Regions from separate parts of the Homo sapiens genome. Here region 1 is linked to region 2. Evidence: fine-mapped expression QTL. A gene starts in region 2. The other region holds a variant in brackets. All regions are shown on one strand. Distances are from middle to middle. Region 1 has its middle 47 kb from the start of OBP2B. Region 2 holds the start of CACFD1 (calcium channel flower domain containing 1).

Evidence for each region. PIP is the estimated chance that this variant, and not a neighbour inherited with it, causes the effect. A credible set is the group of variants that fine-mapping cannot tell apart.
Region 1: its variant is the best candidate, but not a certain one, in a credible set for the expression of CACFD1 in subcutaneous fat (TwinsUK, PIP 0.60).

Annotation. Positions count from the first base shown.
Region 1 is chr9:133,251,871-133,260,196 of GRCh38, reverse strand. It overlaps the pseudogene ABO. Among named protein-coding and RNA genes, the nearest start is that of OBP2B, 47 kb to the right of the region's middle. RefSeq lists enhancers at 1,119-2,103, 4,248-4,780, 7,540-7,758, 6,783-8,326, a silencer at 5,676-6,463 and a cis regulatory region at 7,596-7,641. The variant C/A (reference allele first, on the strand shown) is at 4,234.
Region 2 is chr9:133,455,666-133,463,938 of GRCh38, reverse strand. It overlaps CACFD1 (calcium channel flower domain containing 1), which reads right to left and starts at 3,961. Exons shown (of 5, transcript NM_017586.5): 1 at 3,752-3,961; 2 at 384-456. The coding sequence starts at 3,872. ADAMTS13 (ADAM metallopeptidase with thrombospondin type 1 motif 13) reads right to left here. Exons shown (of 29, transcript NM_139027.6): 26 at 7,724-7,870; 27 at 7,220-7,396; 28 at 5,845-6,029; 29 at 4,553-4,965. The coding sequence ends at 4,759. RefSeq lists enhancers at 710-769, 947-1,503, 6,198-6,492, 6,016-6,883 and silencers at 3,446-3,745, 4,036-4,135, 4,146-4,365, 7,334-7,486.

The DNA of each region.
Region 1 (8,326 bases), 200 kb after region 2:
GGAGGGGGCCTCATGGTTTGTAGACATGTTCTGAAACTCCACTCTGCCCGGCCTTGGCTTCGACGTGTCTGGTGAATGTGTGGGCTGTGAGGCTCCCCGAACGTAGACCTCAGACTGCAACGCTGGCCGTTACAGGGTCTGGCACACGGGCCCACGTCAGGCCCATCGCCACAGTGATGGTTGTTCTGTGACTGTTTCTGGTGGCCTCTGCTCCACACTCCAGGCTGACGCTGTGCCCCTTCCACTGGGACCCTCGGGTGGCTTCCATGCACTTGTGCCCTAAATCCTGCTCCTAGACTAAACTTCATCTCCTGTGTTCTCATTCTGCAGCATGGCTGTTAGGGAACCTGACCATCTGCAGCGCGTCTCGTTGCCAAGGTATAATGTCAGTGCCTCCCTTCAGTGGCTCCCATGTCACAGAATTGTCCTGCAGCCCTGGCACATGTGTGCCATGTGGGAGCTGGGGCAGGTCCTCTTTCCTCCTGTGGCTCCGAGGGAGGGGGCCGCTCCTTCCCCAGTCTCTACCCTGACTTGGCCCTCGTCCTGCAGCCACTCAGAGAGCACGATGGAGCTGGAGCTTCAGTTTTGACCAAATGCGTGTCGCCGGCTTTTGTGTGTGTGTGTGTGTGATGGAGTCTCGCTCTGTCGCCCAGGCTGGAGTGCATTGGCACCATCTCTGCCCACTGCAACCTCTGCCTCCTGGGCTCAAGTGATTCTCCTGCCTCAGCCTCCTGAGTAGCTGGGATTACAGGCGCCCACCACCACACCTGGCTAATTTTTGTATTTTTAGCAGAGACAGCGTTTCACCATGTTGGCCAGGCTAGTCTTGAACTCCTGACTTCAAATGATCCGCCCGCCTCAGCCTCCCAAAGTGCTGGGATTACAGGCATGAGCCCCGGCACCTGGCCTTCAAATTGGCTTTTAAAGAAGATGACCAGCTGGTCTGTTCTGTCTGGGGCCTTGGAGGGCTGTTTCCCAGGATGTGGGCCTTTATCAGTGCTGACCTAGGCAATCAAGGCCAAGCTGGCCACACTGCTTTTGATTTTTTTTAAATTGTGATGAAATACGCTTAACATAAAATTTGCCATCTTAGTCATTTTGGAGTGTTCAGTAGCTTTAAGTCCATTCACATTGCTGTGCAGCCATCACCACCATCCATCTCCAGAACTCTTTTCATCTTGCCAACCTGAAGCTCTGTCCCCATAAAATAGCAACTCCATTTTCCCTCCCCCAGCTCACCATTCCATGGTCTGTTGTTATGAGTCTGCTACTCCAACTACCTTTTATAAGTGGAGTCAATGGTACCTGTGTTTTTATGTCGGGCTCAAATCACTGAGCGTGATGTCCTCACGGTCCATCCAGGTTGTACCAAGTGTCAGAATTTCCTTCCTGTTTTCTGCTGACTCCCTGCTTTTAAAGGCCATCTTGGACATTCAAATTGTGGCCATTACTGACAGTTAAAATGGCCCCGGCTCATGTCTCCTGAGCCTCTACAATCCTTTAGGTGGGGACAGTACTGCGGCCCACACGTCCCCACAGGCTGCGTGTGACACCTGACAGTGCTTTGTGCCACTGTGGAGCAGGTGTCACTCTCCCACTTCTCAGAGAGGAAGCCGGGCTCTGGAAGCCAGCAGCCCACAAGGAGGCCCAGCAGGCTTCGGGCCCAGGTGGGGAGGTCTGCACATCTCAGGGCCTTTCCCTGGGAACAACCAGGGACAGAGGCCACACACCCAGCCTCCTCTCTGCCCACAGTGAATTGAGACACAACCCCTTACGTCCCTCCCAGCCTTAAGTCAAGTGGAAAGCAATGGCCCCTGAGGTCACTTAGTCCCTCTTGCCAGTTTGTAAGTGCTGAATCAGAGACTCTGAGCTTTGGCCCTTTCCCGAGTTCCCGGGATTATGAGCTGACACAGCCCCCAAGCAACCACAGTGATTCCAGCCTGGGAGTGTGGCCTTGGCGGGAGGGTCAATGCCCAGTCATGGTTCAGCGGCTGTGCACACCCCTGCTTACCTGCATCCCACGCTTTCCATGCAAACTCACGTGGCGGCGCTTTGCGCTTGCAGGATGGTCTACCCCCAGCCAAAGGTGCTGACACCGTGGTGAGTAAAGTTACTGACACTGAAACTGAACGCAGCTCAAGGGGCTGTTCTGAAGGTATTAGAGGGCGGTTTCCTTGATGTAAATCTCAGTTGGGGCTGCTTCGTTCTCTCCTCTCAGATTCTCCTGACATCTGAATTCAGAGGCCCACATGGCTGTCCTCTTTCCCTTTGCTTTCTCTGACTTGCGTCTCTTGTTTCCTGTCCCTTTGTTCTCCAAAGCCCCTGCAAAGGCCTGATAGGTACCTCCTACCTGGGGAGGGGCAGCGGGGGTTGGGTGCTGGGGAGGGTTTGTTCCTATCTCTTTGCCAGCAAAGCTCAGCTTGCTGTGTGTTCCCACAGGTCCAATGTTGAGGGAGGGCTGGGAATGATTTGCCCGGTTGGAGTCGCATTTGCCTCTGGTTGGTTTCCCGGGGAAGGGCGGCTGCCTCTGGAAGGGTGGTCAGAGGAGGCAGAAGCTGAGTGGAGTTTCCAGGTGGGGGCGGCCGTGTGCCAGAGGCGCATGTGGGTGGCACCCTGCCAGCTCCATGTGACCGCACGCCTCTCTCCATGTGCAGTAGGAAGGATGTCCTCGTGGTACCCCTTGGCTGGCTCCCATTGTCTGGGAGGGCACATTCAACATCGACATCCTCAACGAGCAGTTCAGGCTCCAGAACACCACCATTGGGTTAACTGTGTTTGCCATCAAGAAGTAAGTCAGTGAGGTGGCCGAGGGTAGAGACCCAGGCAGTGGCGAGTGACTGTGGACATTGAGGTCTCTCCTTGTGTTCAAGACAGAGTGGGGTGGCGGCCAGCCTTGTCCTCCCAGAGGGTAGATGGGAAAGGTCATTCATGCAGCATCTTACTGAGCTCATGTGGGCTCGTGGGCTCGTGGGCTCGCCAGGTCGGTAAAACCCAGCTCCTTCTCCAGAGGCTGCGTCTCACCCAGGGATGGTGGCTTCTGCTGCCCCCTCCTCTCTGTAACTGTGGCCGGCCGTCATGCTGAGCCACCCCCTCAATACAAGGCTCCAGATGTTTCCTGCTCACTGACCAGAGATAGCAGGAGGGGGACACCTGTTTGCTGTCCTTGGACCCTAGAAAGAGGATGCTGGCAGAGCCGTGGTCACTTCTCTGTCAGATGTAGGTGGGGCAGGCAAAGCAGTTGGCCCCAGACACCAAAGGAAGTGGCTGACCCACAAGGCCCTGGGACTCTGGGCCAGGCCAGAGAGGGAGCTAGCCAGGCAACCGCAGACACATACTTGACTTCTCGGCAGCTGTGGGCAGCTGGGCCAGCGACAGTGGCGGAGGCCAGGAATGACTTACTCTTAGGAATAGGTGCAGTTCAAGCCTGGAGGGAGGAAGCTCTAGGGTGCAGAGGCGGGTGTGTGGAGGCCTCGCGTGCAGCTTATAATGAGGGAGCACGTGGCCGGCCTGGCCATAAGAGGGGCAGCTGCGTGGGGAGGCGTGGCTCAGGCCAGGCTGAGGGGGAGTGAGCAGACGCCAGCCTGCGGCCTGCTACCAGCCTCCAGCCACCTGCCCTCAGCCCTCCTTAGTAAGAGGGGGTGCTGGTGGTCCCCCATCGCTGGGAAGAGGATGAAGTGAATCGCAGCCCGAGGACTCGCTCAGGACAGGGCAGGAGAACGTGGTGCATCTGCTGCTCTAAGCCTTCCAATGGCCGCTGGCGGGCGGGTGCAGGACGGGCCTCCTGCAGCCCAGGGGTGCACGGCCGGCGGCTCCCCCAGCCCCCGTCCGCCTGCCTTGCAGATACGTGGCTTTCCTGAAGCTGTTCCTGGAGACGGCGGAGAAGCACTTCATGGTGGGCCACCGTGTCCACTACTATGTCTTCACCGACCAGCCGGCCGCGGTGCCCCGCGTGACGCTGGGGACCGGTCGGCAGCTGTCAGTGCTGGAGGTGCGCGCCTACAAGCGCTGGCAGGACGTGTCCATGCGCCGCATGGAGATGATCAGTGACTTCTGCGAGCGGCGCTTCCTCAGCGAGGTGGATTACCTGGTGTGCGTGGACGTGGACATGGAGTTCCGCGACCACGTGGGCGTGGAGATCCTGACTCCGCTGTTCGGCACCCTGCACCCCGGCTTCTACGGAAGCAGCCGGGAGGCCTTCACCTACGAGCGCCGGCCCCAGTCCCAGGCCTACAT[C/A]CCCAAGGACGAGGGCGATTTCTACTACCTGGGGGGGTTCTTCGGGGGGTCGGTGCAAGAGGTGCAGCGGCTCACCAGGGCCTGCCACCAGGCCATGATGGTCGACCAGGCCAACGGCATCGAGGCCGTGTGGCACGACGAGAGCCACCTGAACAAGTACCTGCTGCGCCACAAACCCACCAAGGTGCTCTCCCCCGAGTACTTGTGGGACCAGCAGCTGCTGGGCTGGCCCGCCGTCCTGAGGAAGCTGAGGTTCACTGCGGTGCCCAAGAACCACCAGGCGGTCCGGAACCCGTGAGCGGCTGCCAGGGGCTCTGGGAGGGCTGCCGGCAGCCCCGTCCCCCTCCCGCCCTTGGTTTTAGCAGAACGGGTAAACTCTGTTTCCTTTGTCCGTCCTGTTGTGAGTAACTGAAGCCTAGGCCCCGTCCCCACCTCAAATCACACACACCCCCTCCCCACCACAGAGACACCATTACATACACAGACACACACAGAAAGACACACACAGACACAAAATCACACACACACCCTCCCCGCCACAGAGACACCATTACATACACAGACACACACAGAAAGACACAGACACAAAATCACACACACACCCTCCCCGCCACAGAGACACACCATTACATACACAGACACGCAATCGCAGATACGCCCTTCCGGCCACAGAAACACACCATTACACACACATACACAGAAAGACACACACAGACACACAATCACACGCAGCCCCTCCCCGCCACAGAGACACACCATTACATACACAGACACACACAGAAAGACACACACAGACACAAAATCACACACACACCCTCCCCGCCACAGAGACACACCATTACATACACAGACACACACAGACACACAATCACACACAGCCCCTCCCCGCCACAGAGACACACCATTACATACACAGACACACACAGACACACAATCACAGATACCCCCTCCCGGCCATAGAGACACACCGTTACACACACATACACAGAAAGACACACACAGCCCCTCCCCGCCACAGAGACACACCATTACATACACAGACACACACACACACACAATCACACACACACCCCCCGCCACAGAGACACACCGTTACATACACAGACATACACACACACACAGACATACACCAGACACGCAAAGACACACAGACACAGATACACAGATACAAAGACACAGACATATAGACACACAGACATGCACAGAGACACATGGAGACACATGCAAAAATGCACAGAGAAAGACATACAGAAGTGTACACACAGACACATAGACCACACAGACACACAGACATGCATGCAAACACACAGACATGCAGACATGCACACAAACACAGACTCACGCACACAGACTTAGGCAGCCCAAATTCAGCGCCTGGGGCATAAGTTCCTGGAGGGGTGGCCACCTTCAGCCCCCACGGTAAGGTCCTGAGGAACCTTCCCCTTAGACAAGGGATCATGGAGGAGGTCTCTTCCGGAGCCTGGAGGGAGGCCTCAAGTGGTCCTTCCACCTCGGCATCCCAAAGTGCTAGGATTATAAGCATGAGCCACTGCACCTGGCCCCAACATCATTTATTGAACAGACTGTCGTTTCCACATTGTGTTTCTTGGCATTTCTGTCAAAAATCAGTTGACCGTAAATGCATGGATTCACTTCCGGGCTCTCTATTCTGTTTCATTGGTCTGTTTGTTTTTATGCCAATACCATGATGTTTTGATTATTATAGCTTTATAGTATATCTTGAAGTTAGGTAGTGTATTGTCTCCAGCTTTGTTCTTTTTGCTTAAGATTGCTTTGGCTATTTAGGGGTCTTTGTGGCCATTACTGACAGTTAAAATGGCCCTGGCTCATGTCTCCTGGGCCTCTACAGTACTTTAGGTGGGGAAGTACTGTGGCCCACATGTCCCAACAGGCTGTGTGTGGCACCTGACAGTGCTTTGTGCCACTGTGGAGCAGGTGTTACTCCCTCATACGAATTTTAGGATTATTTTATTTATTTCAGTGAAAAATGTCAATGAAATTTTGATAGGGATTGCATTGAATCTGTAGATTGTTTGGGGTTGTATGGACATTTTAACAATATTAATTCTTCCAATTCATGAACATGGGATGTCTTTTTTTTGGCACCTGATCTCAGATATGGGACAGCTTTCTAATTATTTGTATCTTCAATTTCTTTCACAAATGTTTTATAGTTTTCAGCATACAGATCTTTCACTTCCTTGGTTGGATTTATTTGCAAGTATTTTTTGTAGCTATTGTAAATGACATTGTTTTCTTGATTTCTTTGTTAGGGTATAGAAATGCTACAGATTGTTGTATGTTAATTTTATATCCTGCAACTTTACTGATTTCATTTATTCTAACATCTTATTGGTGGAATCTTTAGGGTTTTCTATAAGATCATGTCATCTGTAAACAGGGACAATTTAAGTTCTTCCTTTCCAATTTGGATACCTTTTATTTCTTCCTCTTGCCTAATTATTTTGGCTGAGGGCCAACTTGTTGGGTTTGTTGTTGTTGGTTTTTGTCTGTGTCTTTTGGTGTTTCGTGTTGCTGGCTTTTCCAGCACACAGTCACAGATATATGAGGCAGAAAGAAAACCCAGGGAACTCCTGTCATGTCATTCCTCAGGTCCCAAGGTCCCTACATGGTCTGCCTTCTTCTCTCCACCTTTTAGTGTTTGATATACATACGTTTATGTATGTAGTTATATATGTATGTGTAATACCCAGGGAAATATACAGAGATTTTAACTGTCCTTAGTGTAGGGCGTGGGGACAGGTGCATCTATTCTACCTTGCTTGGAAGTGGAAAAATCTTCAAGAAATCAATTTATCACCAACTGGCATGACAGAACTCCTGGTTTAGTGTCTAGCTGTCTCCACTAAAATCAATCACCATGCCATCAGGCACTCTCTTCCCTCTGGTGTGTACTGGTACCTGAAACAGCGTCCAGCACCCTGAGAGCACAGAACGCAGCTTCTTATGTGCCCCACCCAATAATCCCAAATCGAGCACAGACCTGGGAGCTGAAGAGACAAGCTGGAGGTCAGGCAGTTCTATTACTTAAGCCTGGTTCTTCCTGACTCCAAAAGCCAGGCGCCACCCCATGCTCCTTCCCAGCAGAAGCTGGTTTTCACCGGGTCAGGAGGACAGGATGGCTATTCCTGACCGTTGTACAGCAGTGCCACATCTCCTAGTTTCCAGAACATTTAATGTGTTGCTGTGGAGGCCTGGCAGCTCTGAAGTAGCCCCTTGCGCCCAGGACAAACCGGGCCTGGAGGGGTGGGGTGGGGTAAGCTGAAGCTTCCAGTATCCCACGTGGGCATTCTGTTGCTGAGGGCAACCGCCCCTCCCTGCAAGGGAGGGGAAGGAGCAGGCAGGCACACCCTTCCTCCCTCCACATTTCACTGGAGTTGACCTGTGTCCTACTGTGGTTGCACCTGGACCAGCCCAGAGGGACTGGAGTGACTCTTCCCGCAGGTAGGGCACAGCCAGCCTGGGCACAGGGCCTCACTGCAATCCCTGCGCCCCGCCTCCCTGGGGGATTTCCAGGGGTTGTCCTGCTGCTTGGTGAGCTGGGGGTGTGGGGGACCACAGATGAGGCAGGCGCCTAAATTGCTTGGGCGGAGTCCGGCTGCTCTCTCCCTCCAGGCCCTTTCCTGTGTCCTCGGGCCCCTCGGGTCCCTGCACCAGGCCAGCAGCAATCGGGTGTCAGAGGTTCAAGTCCAGGCTGACTCCTGGGACGCACCGACTTTGCCCAGGAGGGCTGGGGAGAGGGCAGCCCCAAAGTGTCATCTTTGATTATTCTTTGTCCCCAAAGCCAGCCTTGGGCATGTGCCCAGCACAGGGAGAGCTGCTGCCTCTGTGGGCTTGAGTCATTTTTGCTTCCTTGCCCCTCTCTGCTCTGTTTGGTTTAAAAAACAAAAACCAACACCCATGGGTGAGGCGAGGCGAGGCGAGGCTTGCCTTGATCCACCCGCTTCCTCCCCTGCAGCCTCGGGCCCCATCCTCCCGCGTGGCCGCACTAGGGGTGCTGGGGGCGGAGTGGGGACCAGACCTGAGTGGGTTCTGGGTTCAGCTTCGCAGC
Region 2 (8,273 bases):
GCCTTCCCCACCCCAGTCCTGGGAGCTCCCAGAGGGCGAGGGCCCCAGTATAGTGGACTTGGCATCTGCAGTCTCAGTGGATGCTCCAGAAATGTCTGGAGCACTGATGGCCTTGCCCCTGCACCGGATGAAGGCCGGGGTGGGCATTCCCTGGGCCTTGACCTCTCATTAGGAAACTAAACATGGTGGGGGTATGAAGGGGAAGAAGCCGCATGCTGTGGCCAGAAACTCACATGCCCGAGGCACCCAGGCTGGAGCCAGTAGCCATGGCAACCACAAGGATGCCCACTCCCACGGCCCCTGCCACTCCTCTGTCCCGGGAGGTGCCCAGCAGATTCCCGACCAGCAAGACCCCCGGGGTGGGACGGCCATGCATTACTCACATCATCCACACGCCGGCCGCAATGTTCAGAGGGTGGATGGTGATGCAGTTGAAGAGGCCAGAGATCGCGCAAGCTTGAAACAAGAGACACGGGCAGGAGTCAGCAGGGAGGCAGGCGGAGCCCGCTGGGAAGGCGGCCTTGGGAGATGACTGGAAAGGACGAGAGTCTCTGCGGATGCTCAGCACACAGTTCTCACAGCACCCAGAAGCCTGCCCTCTATCGTCTGAGACAGGTGAGGAGACGCAGAGAGGTGCAGTGCCTTGCTTGCCCCAGGCCCCACAGCAAGGTGGCAGCAAGGTGGCAGGTGGATCTCACAGCATCCTCTCCCCGTTTCAGGGCTCAGAGGAGCTGGCCCTCTGACCCCAGCTACATCAATATCCACCTCAAAGGGAGGTTAGGATTAAAGAAGGATTAAAGAGTGAATGTCCCTCAAGGATTCAGGCCAGTGCTCCCCCAAGACTCAGCCTTCGGTAAGGGTCACTTGCCACCATTCACAGGGCCGGCCACACAAGAAGTCCTCTGACTCAGAAAATGTGGCTTGGATTTTGGTTGGGACAAGGGGTGCCTCTCTCAGAACAGAGATGGGAACCAGGTAAGACTGAGCAGCAGTTCCAGCTCTAACTTCCTCACCAGCCCTGTGCCACTGGCACGCTATCTTCATCTTCCTAGACCCGTTTCTCCTCTTGCACATGAGCAAGTCCCACAGCCCAGCCACCCACCGCTGAAATGCCATAAGGCCAGGAAGGGGAGGGGGCATCGTTTTCCACCCCAGAACGTGGCTTCTCTGATGCTCAGATGTGCAGCCTTGACGCCCCGCCTCCCAGCTGCACCTCACCAGCAGGGTCTCTTGCACCCAACTCCCTCCTCCACCCACAGCCTGCAGCCTGGCTTCACCAGGAACTCCAGGAGCCTTCAAGGCAGGTCCAAGGAGGTGGCTGCTGGGCAGGGAGCAAGCCCAGGCCATCACTGAGGGGGGCCTTGGAGGCAGCAATTAGCACCCAGCTCATTAAACTTGCAGCAGCTCCTCTGCACCTGATCCCTCCACCTGGGTCTGGAATTCTGCTGTTTTCCATTTTCCCAGGTAACCTTATGCAGACAGCAGGCAAAGAAGCCAGATAAAGTGAGCCGAACTGCAATGGGACTGCTTCATGGGCCCCCAGGGTCTCCTTCTAAAACAAAGGACTCAAGCGTTGCACTGCTCCTCAGCACAGCCTTAGACATCTGCCTTCAGACAGCAAGGTGTTCCAGAACCACAGGTACACAGGGGCCTGCCTGTCCTAGCAGAGTGCCCAAAGGGTGACACGGCTCCCTGCCTCTCTGCTGTGCCTGGCCTCACCTGACAGCTCGGCTGTGCTTCCTGCTGCAGTCAGCATTTGGCCTCCAGCTCCAACCCTACCCCAGCTGTCCAACCCACAGCCAGCCTTGGGGGAGGACCAGGTGTCAAGCCAGACCAGCAGGCTCCAGCCAGGAATCCTTTAGCAATAAAGGGCTGGAGGATGTCCACTTGGGGGCCTCAATGCTGATATCTTCCACGTGAGGGGGCTGTCACCATGCAATCCTGTCCCCTCCCAAGGTATCACCTCCAGATGCTCTTAGGACCCAGGGTAGACCCTCTCCAGGTACTCTCTCTGATCCCCTCACCCTGGAGGAGGAAAACCTTACCCAAGGACCAGCCCGGCACACAACCCTTGTCTGAACTCCTGCCGCATCTCTAAAACACCCTGCATTTTTGCATTCTACCCTGTAATACAGCATTTTGATGTTCACATAACCATGCCCCCAAAAATCTGCAGATGCAACTGACAACTCAGGGCAATGCCACAAGTTTCTCCTGAAGCTTCATCTGTAGACCCAACAGAGCCCCAGGAACTCCCAGGAAAGGCAGAGGTACCTCACTTTGAGAGGCACAGAACTGAGTAAGACTCCACAGCAAATCTGGGAGTCGGCAGGGCCACTGACCAAGAAGGAAGGAGGTGTGGCCTACAGGCCATAGTCAGGACCTTTCCTTTCTCACCACTGACCATGTCACCCCACTGCACTGCCCACCCTAATCTGCAGGGAAAACAGCTAACCAGACATGACAGGACTGGATCCAATGCCTAACTTCAAACCCACCAGTCTCTCCTACAAAGTCAAAAGCGTACTTGCCCTGAAGAGCAGTGACACAAACTCGGGGCCTTTTTGTGATTTGGGGGTAGGGCCTGCCCTACCGTATCCGTTGCCTCTGGATAAGGGCATGCCTAGCGAGGGCAGCACACTCCTAGCCCAGCACCCTCCTGCCTCAACCTCCCTCCACCCTCTACCCACCTGGAAAGGCTGTGGAACCCAAGGTGACCCTGAAAAGGTGGTCCTTCTGGCAGGATTGCTGATGGGGCCTGCCCTGCCCAGGCCCAGAGCTAGCCCTCTCTGCCAGGCAGGCACTGTTTAAAACCTGCAGACATCCTCGACAGACATTCTCTAAGACCTTGCCCACTCCAGTAATCCACAAGATTGAGGGCAGACAGGAAAGGAAAGGGTATCACTCAGACAGACTTGTCTTTCCCTGGAAGGCCAGCTGTACGGCTTCCATTCACTCCTGGAGCTGACCTGCCTCCCTCTTTGTCCTTTTCTGGCTGTGCTTAAGAGCCTAGCTTCCCTGGCAGCCTAAGGTCAGGGTCTGTGACTGGGATGCGTGCGGAGAAGGGGAGGAAGGCCGGTGACAGGCGGCTAAGGCAGCAGCAACGGGGGAGATATGAGAGCGGACAGAGGACCCAGGGAGAGGCCGGGCCCTCAGCTCACTGCCCCGCGGCCCCAGGGGCCACCTGTGCCCTGACACCACCTGACCCTCAGCAAACTTCCGCCCAGTGGCTTCCTGCCAGAAATCTAGCCAGCCGTGCACCCGCCTCCCTTACAAACAATCCTTGCCCAAAGGTTAGCAATGTGGCTGCCGTCACCTACGCCCAAGTCAACAGTTGACGCTTTAGTACGGGCCAGGTGGGCATGCGCCCCGTGAGCATCACCGAGAAAGTCTCACAAAAGCCCCTGGGGAGCGGGGGGAGGGCTCAGTCACGTGCCCCAGGCCGGTGCCCCACCCCCGCCCCCGCCGCCCCCCCGCCCTGGGGTTTCTGGTCCCTCCGGGAATGTTCCCAGAAGCGCCAGCCCAGCCCAGCCCGGGGTACCAAGGCGCCCAGGCCCGAGCGGGTAACCATGGCAACCCCAGGACGCCGGCTCCCGGCGGCCCCGCCATTCCTCCGCCCCGGGAGGCGCCCGGCAGACCCCCGACCCCCAGCGGGTCCTTTCCCCTGGGGCCGCCGGGGCGGGGCGGGGCAGGGCAGGGCGAGGAGCGCATGCGCGGCGGGGCCGGCCCCTCTCCCCGACTGGATACTCACAGACTGCCCCCAGCACCCCAGACAGGCGACACAGCCAGCGGTACCACCACGTCATGCCCTCTTCCTGCGCGGGCGGCGCAGAGCTGGCGGACGCCCCGGGCGCCCCACCTGAGCTGCTCATGGTGCCACCGTCAGGCGCAGCTCACAGCCCTCACAAAGGGCTCGGTAGCCGGCCGCGTCCGAGCCGGCGCGCTGCCTTGTGGGAGAGGGAGCATATTAGCATAGGGGGCGGGGCTTTCAGGCTGCGGCGAGGCGCGCCCGAAGGGAGGCGGGTGCTCATTAACATAGTGAGCGGGACCCTCATGCCGCGACTAGGGGCGTTTGAGGGGAGGTAGGTGCTCATTATTGTAGGGGGCGGGACCCGCAGGCTGCGGCGAGGAGCTGGGGGTGGGGAGCTCGTTAGCATACGGGGCGGGGCTCGCAGGCATCGGAGAGGTGTGCCCGAGGGGGGCGGGCGTCATTAGCGTAGGGGGCGGGGGCTCGCAGTTTGCGGCGACTTGCTCCCAAAGGAGGCGGGCGCTTATTAGCATAGGGGGCGGGGCCTGGAGGCGCGCAGACACCTTAGCGGTCAGAGCCTCACACCAGGACACACGGGTGGGGCTTCGCAGGGAGCTGGCTAATGCGCCATCCTCGGAGTGGAATCCTGATTGGATTTTCTTCCTGGATAGGAAGAAGATAACTAGGGACGTCCAGCGGCTTGCTCAGATCAAGATAGAGCCAACCGCGGCCAGCGAATCCCTGCCTTGCCATGGGATGGGTTTTCAAGCCAGGTCTGGACAGCTTATAAGAAAAAAACGCCGGTCAGCCTGCATGTTTTATTTATTGGTACCCGAGGAAATGGGGGCTGCTTTTCCAGAGTCCCCACCTCCAACCCCCTAGCCTTTTGGACATTGGAGAAGACTCTAAAGTAGATACCTAAGATTGGAAAAAGTTCGAATTGGAAAGCACTGAGACCAGGGGTCAACCCTCCAGGGCTGGCCAGACACGGAACAAATGTTCAATGACCCTCAGGTTCCTTCCTTTCCCTTCCAGGACTGAGGGTCCTGCATCTCCGGTACCCATGATTGGAGGGTCCAGTACTGGCCCCGCAGGCTGGCCTGAGCCTTCAGGAAGCCCTCGCTGAACTCCATCTCAGCCTGGCTGCTCTCTGACTCCCAGTAGAGCACCTGCTGCCCATGGAACGCTGTGGTCCTCAAGCTGTGGGTGTCCCGGATCTGAGAGAAAAGGGGCAGCCCAGAAGGACCGGCCACAAGTAATAATTAGCACTCACGGAAGCCTTCGTGTGCAAGGGCTCACAGATTCCGGATCACATTTAATGCTTACAAAGCCCTACTAGGAATACGCCATTACTCTACCCAGAAAACCGAGGTCCAGGGACGTTACATCACTTCCCCAAGGACACACAGTCAGGGTGCCAGAGCGGGGCCAGGCTGCCTCCTCTGGGGAAGCTGATACCCTGCAGAACACAGTTCTCCCAGGACACTTGAAACCTCGGGGAGGGTGCAGGGTGCTATTCTGTCCAAGTTATATCAGACTGTAAAATTATGCTTCAGTCTTGGGTTAGCTGTCAGTCTACATCAGAAAGGTCTTTACCATTCTTTACCATTTCGCTTTTTTTTTTTTTTTTTTTTTGAGACAGAGTCTCACTCTGTTGCCCAGGCTGGAGTGCAGTGGTGCGATCTGGGCTTAGTGCAACCTCCACCTCCCGGGTTCAAGTGATTCTTGTGCCTCAGCCTCCCAAGTAGCTGGGATTACAGGCACACGCCACCATGCCTGGCTACTTTTTCTATTTTTAGTAGAGACAAGGTTTCATCATGTTGGCCAGGCTGGTCTCGAACTCCTGACCTTGAGTGATCTGCCCTCCTGGGCCTCCCAAAGTGCTGGGATTACAGTTGTGAGCCACTATTTCACTCTTGTAGGTAGCTCAAAAAACATTTCTTGGTGAATATGTGGAGGAAGCTATCTTCTCCCATTCTTTCACTAATGATTTTGAGGGTTTTAGTCTGAAATAAACTGAAGGGGGTCCCCTAGCCCTGCACGCCCTAGGGAAAGCTGTCCAGAATCACAGCACAAGTCCCCATGCTGGGCCTCACCAAGATGTAGCTGGCATTGGCTCCCTCGGTCCCAGCGCCCATGTTGGTGGCCAGGGCATGGATGGCAATCCGTGCGTGCGGAGCCACATTAATGAAGAGCCGGCAGCCCCCTGCATTACTCGTGGCTGGACTCAGCGAGGGGCTCACGATTTCACCCCAGGGCCCAAAGAGCTGCATGTCACATTCTGCAGGTGGGACATAGGGACATAGGAACCCAGACAGACCGGTGGTGCCAGAGGCCAGGACAACTCACAGCCAGGGAGCCGTGCAGGGCAGCATGGCACTGTGGTCAATATTGGGGTTCCCAGGCAAATCCTGCTGAACCCCACCTCTACCACTTCCTGGCCCAGTGACTTTAGGCAAAGGCTAAATGTTCTGGGCTCTGGTTCCCTCCTCTGTAACTGAAGGAAACAATGGCATGCACTGAGCAGAGTGGTCTTTAGGACTCAATGATGTCACACGTGCAAGAGTGTTTAACACTGAAACTGGCAACAAAGATAGGCTCCACCCATGGCGGCCACTGCTGTTCCTCAGAGCTCACTGGAGCCCCCACCTGCCTGTACCTCCTGCACCTCTTTCAAGGCAGATGCCTGTGTGGGCGGGGCTGGGCCGGGAAGCGAGAAGCAATGTGAACGGTGACAGTGGGCTTGTGGCCTTTTGGCAGGGCCCAGCAGCGCCTGTGCACTGGGACACATACACGGCTCTCTGCCCGGGCAGGTCTGGGGCAAGGAGGCGGCGCACTAGGTCTCTGCAGAGGCTAAGCCCCTGTTGCCACTAAGCCCCAGACACCTGGGGGAGCCGAGGAACCTCTGGAACCAGCTAGGGAAGCCAACTTCGGCCAGCTCGGGCTGTTGGGAGAGGGCAAGCCCCCCAGGACAACCGAGAGGGCTATCAGAGGATATCGAGGGGGCCACGGGCAAGGCTGGAGTCCCTGAGGTGGCATCCTCTGCCTGAGGTGTGCTTGTGGGTGCACATGCATGTACAAGCATGTCTGCTTACACCAGTGCACTGAAACAGGGCTGAGGGACAGTGGCTTCCACAAAACCCTAAAAGCCCTTGAAAGGCTGGAGGGGTGGGGGCGGGGCAGGTGGGTGTGGGGCAGAGGCCTGAGGGACTGACTGAGGATGTGGACCATGTCCCACATCCGTCCATCTTGCTGCACGGTCCCAAAAAGGAGGGATATAGCATTCATCCTGTGACCCCTCCCTGGCACGTGCAGACTGACACTGGCCAACCCCAGTTCCTTCCATCTCAGTCAGTTCCCTCCGTATCTTCCCACTGCCCCACTGGGACTGGCCCCATCCCCAGCAGCACCCACCCAGCCTCCCTGCCAGGACTGGAGCACCCAAGGGAGGTGGAGAAGGCCTGGCCATACCTCTGTAGAAGGTTTCAGGAGCAAGCTGGCTCCCATACCGCAGCAGCACCCCACCTCCTGGCCGCCCGCAGCGCTGCCTCACCACCAGCGTGTTGGTCTTGGAGCTGAAAGTCATGTCCAACAGCTTCCTGCACATCTTCCTCCAGGTGAGCCGGCCCCAAAGCAGCAACATGTCCCCTAGGAAGCGGCAGGGCAGTGAGGGTCCAGCACTCCCACGCCTGGTCAGCAGAGGAGTGGCTCCAGGGTAGACTGAGCCGAGTTCAAGTCCCACCTCTCCCACTGCTGGCTATGTGACTCTAAGTAACTGGGCACATCACTTAATCTCTCCTAGCCTCAGTTTCCTCATCTGTAAAATGCAGATCATCACTCCCCAGTCATGAGATGGGATGCAAACTACAGGTGGGAATGCACATGGGCTCCTGCCAGGAATGGGGCATGCAGCGTCGTGCTGGCTCCTGGCAGGGCCCATAACTGGCAGCATCGCTTGCATGGCCCTAGACATACCCGCACTGCAGTTGAGAGAACTCTCAAGGACGCGGAGGGTCACCACCTCCCCGAGGGGCCGCCCAATGGCCACTGCACAGTCTGCCTGCCCTGGGCCTCGCATGTCAATGGTTCCTGTTGGCTCAAGGTGCTGCCTGCCACAGGCACCTGAAAAGGGAGCAGGAGACAGGTAAGCAGTGCTTCCCCGATTCCCAGCAGGGCAGGCTCCGGGGCTTCCAAGCTGAGGAAGGAGACCAGGAGGTAGGGGTGGACCCTGTCCTCCAAGGCCCAGCTGGAAGCCTTCTCAGGACAGGGAGGGGGGCTGCATAGGTCAGAGCATCACCCTCAGGGCACAGGGCTGCTACCAGATGATCCAGCAAGAGGGGGCACATGCAGAGCAGCCCAGAGGCTAGGGGGCTCACAAGCTGGGTTCCTACCTTCAAGTTACTTCCCCTTGATAGTAGTAAAAGGGAGGTTTTGCTTTGCCAGGGAGAAAGAGGGCCAGCCCTGATCCCGGCCTCCCAGGCACACAACCCAGGGACCAAGTGCTTGTGCCAGTCCTTCCCAGAGG